Linked DNA regions of Homo sapiens: region 1 is linked to region 2. The links come from fine-mapping of genetic effects on gene expression. A gene starts in region 2. The other region holds a variant in brackets. All regions are shown on one strand. Distances are from middle to middle.

The links.
Region 1: its variant is fine-mapped to the expression of PPFIBP2 in tibial nerve (GTEx, PIP 0.98). The same link has a PIP of 0.9 or more in cartilage and damaged cartilage.

What each region holds. Positions count from the first base shown.
Region 1 is chr11:7,584,727-7,587,639 of GRCh38, forward strand. All of the region lies in intron 3 of PPFIBP2 (PPFIB scaffold protein 2), which reads left to right. All of the region lies in intron 2 of LOC105376535 (a long non-coding RNA gene), which reads right to left. Among named protein-coding and RNA genes, the nearest start is that of PPFIBP2, 72 kb to the left of the region's middle. The variant A/G (reference allele first, on the strand shown) is at 1,225.
Region 2 is chr11:7,512,852-7,515,764 of GRCh38, forward strand. It overlaps PPFIBP2 (PPFIB scaffold protein 2), which reads left to right and starts at 1,148. Exons shown (of 24, transcript NM_003621.5): 1 at 1,148-1,270. It overlaps LOC124902806 (leucine-rich repeat extensin-like protein 5), which reads right to left. Exons shown (of 4, transcript XM_047428005.1): 2 at 1,267-1,754; 3 at 1-1,189. The coding sequence ends at 359. RefSeq lists an enhancer at 1-43 and a silencer at 714-1,243.

The DNA of each region.
Region 1 (2,913 bases), 72 kb after region 2:
AATCATTTTTGTTTATTTATTTATTTTGGTCCCCTTACTTTTAAGGTTTATGTCTTCTAAGTTTCTAAAAGGGGTTGCATGTGAGTGGTGCTTCTGAGCTTAAGATATAGCCTTAGTAACTTTGATATCTCCCCTGATGCCCTGTGCCTGGCAGCTATGGTTCACTTGTAACTAGTTTTCTGGATTTTGATAAGATCCTCTTGACTAGGCAGCCTGGAAACACTACACATTTTCTTTTGTTTTCTTATTCAGCTAAAAATACATGTCATCTAAATGGCTAAATAAGGAAGAACCATTTTAAGGCTTATCCAGGACAAGGCTTACCCAACGTGCTGTGTTCAAAATCTCAGCGTATTTACAGGCAAAGAGCCATCATATAATTTAACATGCTCTGACCAGTTGGGACAGTGTATGTACTGTGGCCAAGATCCTGAAGGCACTGGAATTTATAGCTTATTAGAAGCACTGAAGGAAATGTAACTCTTTACCTGGCCAAGATGACAACTATTGATATCAAAAAAAGGAAGGCAGATGCATTTTGAGGATCCCAAGGCAAGAGCTCTGAGAAGCAACTGTTGGCTTCAAAAACCAACATGATGCTAGAGCTGTCACACTGGGGAGCCGACTGTTTTAGGTTTTCCCACACTCCTTACTTGTATACCAATGACACCCCTGTTGTGATCTAGCCCTTGCCCCATTTGACTACTCTGGAACCAACTCCTTCCCCTAGTTCAATGAAGTACAGTGCCAGCAGGAAGTCTCCTGGGTCATGCCAGTTGGGGAGTGCTACAGAACTGCCCTCATCCAGCATCCCTGAGGTGTACCAGAGCACATGTGAAGAGTGTGTTCTCCTTGCAAATGGCCAGCCAGGCCATAAAGCAGTCATGCTGCCCACCACAAATCTGCAGGACCCCAGCCATGGCATCAAGCACTCACCCTGTCTAGAGCTCCAAGGAGAGACTAACATGGCTATCCCTTGGCCAAGCTACAGTGGAAGGGCTAGGCCAGGAGAGAGCATTGTCATAGATCTGAACAGCCACTGCAGTCAGAGGGTGATGTCTTTGAGGAGGCCGCTGGGGGTTAACTTGGCTGAAAAGTTCATGTTTAACCCAAATTTGAACTAACCTCTAGATTGGAACAGAAATAAAAACCCAAGTGTTTATGATTGGTTATTACTAGCTATAAAAATTCCCAGTGTACTCATTATAAACATGTATGTAGCAC[A/G]TAATACTTAGAGTACACAATAAAACACTTGTACGAAAGAAAAATATGTGGCCATGAATGTATGACTCAAAAATGTGAGCACTTGTTCAGGGATAGTGGAGAAGTGAACTCATCTTTGGCAATGTGGCCCAAAGACATGATCCCAGGGCTATTAGCTAATGGTGGGTTCTGCGTTGTCACTGTCACAGAGGCTTTCTTTTTGTTTTGTTTTTTCATTTCAAGCCTGAAAGTATTTTGGTTATTGTTCCCTTGGGTTGTTTGTACAGATCTTCATAGATATTTCTTAGGCATCCTGATCAGAAATATTGCCCCTGTTGTTCTCTTACACAAAAAGAGTGAATTAATTAAAACTTTTTGTAGAAGGCATTAAATGATGCCTTCTAACTCATGCTTCTAACTGAATGTTGGTCTTTTAGATTAAACAAAGCTAAATCATTTATAAGTTAGCTAAATTCATTTGTTAAATTATAATTTAAAAATCATTTCCATATTCCTATGATTATTCAAAAACTGTTTATATCACACAGGAATTTTTAGAGCACCCTACTATAAAGAGCACTCTGTAGTTTTAGTGCCACACGTTTTCAGGTATGCTGACCTAACTTGACCCTTTCTGTTGCTCCGTGAAGCATGATTTTTTCTATTGAAAGGATGGAAAGCCTGAGATGAGGTAACCTACTTGAGATTACACATGGTTAGGTGCAGCCCCAGCCTCCTAATTATTCTTGGTTTGTCCTCTTTCTGCAGAGAAGGTGGTCCCTTGGGGAGGAGGATGCAATAGGAATTCTGTAAATGAATATGGAAGCACCACAAGAAAGTCCCCAGGGATCCCCTGACTTGAAGTTCAGCTGGGCCAAATGAGGGGAACAGGGAACCCAGAGCTCTCAGCCTCCCAGCGCCCAGACCTGGCATTTGTACAGCTGTGTCTGACATGTAATTCTTTCGACATAACTTCTTAAACAGTTGTTAGATCTATTTCTGTTATTTACCCTTCATTTATTCATTTTCTGATTCATTTTCTGATAATATCTTTTAGACTTTAGCTCCTGTTTATTTCTTGTTTTGTTTGAACTTACTTTTTCATATCACACATCCTGCTCCCCACCTCCACCAACCCCGGTTGATGCCCATGGGCCTGTTGCATCTTGTATTCATTCCCTGTCTTAACCTTTTTGCTCTACATGGGAAATAAGAATGGAAGCAAACAGGTGGTGGATAGAAAGCCATCTATTCCACACACAAAGGACACTGAGTGCCCTTTTTATCCTAGTACATCCCACACAGACACTCCCTGTGCCACAAAGTAGATCTCAATTAGCCCCTGATGATAATCCTGGTTTGAACTATAGTTGGCTTAGGACTGACAGCCCTGTCTTAAAAATTGCCACTTTAAGCAAATCAAGCAATAGTGGCAGAATTCCTTTGCAATTCAGAACTATATCCAAATAGCAGGAATTCTTTCCTACAAGTCTGTTTCCAAAGGAGTAAATTTTAGTCAGTTGATCACCTTTTGAGACAAATGTATTAACCAGAACTTTTGGTTGCAAATAACAGAAACTCAGTTTGAACTAGGCCAAGAGGGAACCAACAGGAAGGGCTGGAATATATCTCTGCCTTTAGGCAGCGTGCACCGGGGATGAGAATGCCTCCAGTCTTTTTCTTGGCTTTTGTTTGCTTTTCTGTGCACAC
Region 2 (2,913 bases):
GCCTACTGGTCATTTCAGACCGCGAGGGTAAATTTGGTTTGAAAAAGTTGTGTCCTGTGGAGTTTGTCGACACTCCAGCCTGTAGAGAACTAAAGGCTAGGGCTGTGGTGACTCCTGCCAGAGCTGGGGACTATGCCGAGTCCCTGGTGTCGCTGCCATCTGAGGCCTACAGGGATTTTAAACAGCTTAACAGCAGCCAGTCCTTGGAGGCCTGGGCAGGGCCACAACATAGCAGTACAACCAAAACGGGTTCAGGCCACACGCTGGAGGTAGGGGCTGGACCAGATCTCCAGCTTCAGTCCTCCCCAGTTCGAGAACCCATTCCTGTGGTCAGACATTGCCAACGCTTTTCTTGGACCTAAGGTCCCAGACCTTGGCGCTGGGCACAGGGAAATGCTTCCTGACCTCGGCTCTTCATAAGACAGAACTTTTGTTTGGTGCCAACCACTAGAGGGACCTCCACCCCAGGTTGCGAGTGCAGCGCGGCGGGACCTGGGATGATTCGGGGGCTTTCCGACCTGCTTAGGGAGGGCGGCTCAGAGACAACCTCAATTTTGCCTGGATTGCACGCGGGCCGAGGAAGTCGGGATGCTCCGAAGGGTTTCTGCTCTGGGAGTGCCTCTAATGTGGGTTTTCTATGCTTTCTCTCTTCGCAATTCTCGACACCGTTTCCTTCTTCCTCGCTTTCATTCCCTGTGACCGGAGAACGGCGCTGAAGGACTGGAGAAGCCCAGGAGACTGGGAGCCGGAGCGCCGGGTACCCACCCGGGCCTCCCCGCAACCGGAGCTGTGCGGAGGAGGAGGCGCGGCGAACGGGGCGGGGCTCCCGGAAGGGGGCGCGGTCCGCCGAGAGAGGCGGGGCTGGGGCCCGGACGCGCGGCCCAGGGGGTGGGGACGAGGCAGGTTCGAAGGGGCGGGGCTGACCAGGCCGGTCCCCCGGGAACAGGAACCCTGGTGGACGGGTCCCAGCAGGCTTCTTCGGTGCCCGAGAGGGAGCGGGTGCCCAAGGGGGTGGTCCCTGTGGCAGGTCCCGGGGTGGGGGCGCGGCGCTCCGGGAAGAGCCTTCCGCAGGTCCCCGCCCCGTCACGTGGGCGCCGGCCCCGGCCGCTGCGGTCGGTCCGCTGGTTGGTCGGGCGCTTGGTCCGGCAGTTGGTCGGTGGGCCAGTGGCCCGTCGCTCGCTTCTGGGCTCTCATGTTTGAAGGTGGGAGGGACACGGGAGCGGCCCGCACACCTGAGCCGCCCGGAGAGGAGCCTCGGCCCCGTACCCAGGTCAGTGGGCTCTCCCCACACCCCGGGCTTGCCGCGCGGTCGGGGTTGGGATCCCCGTCGGGAGCATTACCTAGGGAGTGGAGCGCCCCCAGAGCTACGAACCACGGGGACGTGTGGGTCAGTGTCTCTGTGAGCCCCGGAGCGTGTCCCAGGCTCGAGGACGGGGACCCTTCTCCAACTCCACTGGCCAGAAGCCTGGGAGGAGGGCAGAACTCCTGTGGGTTGGCTGCGAATCTCCACCCAACCCTGCCTGGGATCCGCGGACAGTCCGCACTCCTGCAGGTGCCAGCGTGGCCCTGGAGATGCGCAGGGAGGTGGGGTCCCTGAGTTCTGTGCGGCGCGTCCCAGCCCTGCTCAGCCCGGGGAGCAGCGGCGTGGACTAGGGAGCCTAAGGAGGTTGCGGAAGCTTTAGGTCTGTCAGCCCAGGCAATTCTCTGGTGGACACAGCGTGTGTCTAGATGCAGGGCCTCGGCTAAAGCCAGTTCTGTAGTGTAAGTGCAAAAATACAGCACACTTTTTAAAATCTAAAGCCGCCGCGTCCCAGTAGACTGCAGGATGGGGACGGTCCTATTTAAAAGTGGGCTCCCTCCTCACCTCATCACATCAGATTCCAGACCCGCAGTTTTTCCTCGGATGAAAATAAGATTATGTAACAAGAGAACAGAACTTCCAGCGTTTGGATAGGATTAAGACAGGCATTCTTGCCAGTGTTTAATCTTCTTAAAAAACGAATCTAATTATATTTTTACTTTTAGAGCAGCCAGATATTTGGTATAGATCCGTGTCCCTTTTCTATATTTTGGTCTACTTCCTGTCTTTCTCTTCGTCTCTCTCCTTTCTCAACCCCTCCTTAATTGATTGTAATACAAATCTGAAGTGTTTTCAAATTTGTAGTGTATTATGTGAAGTTAAATGGTCAACTACAGAAAAGTAGTTGGTTTTCGACATAATTCATCTTCAGCATATTCAGTCTTTCATTATTATAGGTGTATGGAAAGCTGTAAGTGTTATCTAATTTAGAAATTATTTCTCTTTGGCTTAAGAGAGGCAACCCATTTGTACTTTGCTTAAATTCATAGCTAAATAAATTTGAAGTGGGAGATGGGGATGATTGATGAGGTTTTCACTGATTGCATTTATCCATGTTTTATTTAACATATTTCAATTATTAGTAATACTATTTTAAGATTTGGTGATGTGACAGTTGTTAGCTTATTGCTACTGGAGAGATAAGCTGCTTACCATGATGCCTTCTTTACTGGGTAGCTAAGGGAGATGCGCTTTGACTTTAAAAGAGTAAGTGGAATGAGATCAATGACATGAAGGCGGTAGGAACAAAGTTATGGGAATTCCTGTCTTTCATCTGAGCAGGGAAATCTGGGATAATTTTAAGAAAGGGTGATGTGATGGACCTCAAAGGATCCCTCCTGGGGTTTTTGAGGCAGAGAAGGGTAGAGTGTGGCCTGGGCTGTGACAACTGTGTGGGCAGGCAGGCATGGACTCACCATGAGAAGTGGCCAGTGGTCCAGCTTGGCTCTTATGTCAAGTGCTAGTCAGGAAAGCTGGTGACAAGGCTGGAAAATAGTCCCAGCTGTCCAGTACAGAAGTCTGGACTTGGTCTGAAGGCACAGCAGGGGACTGAC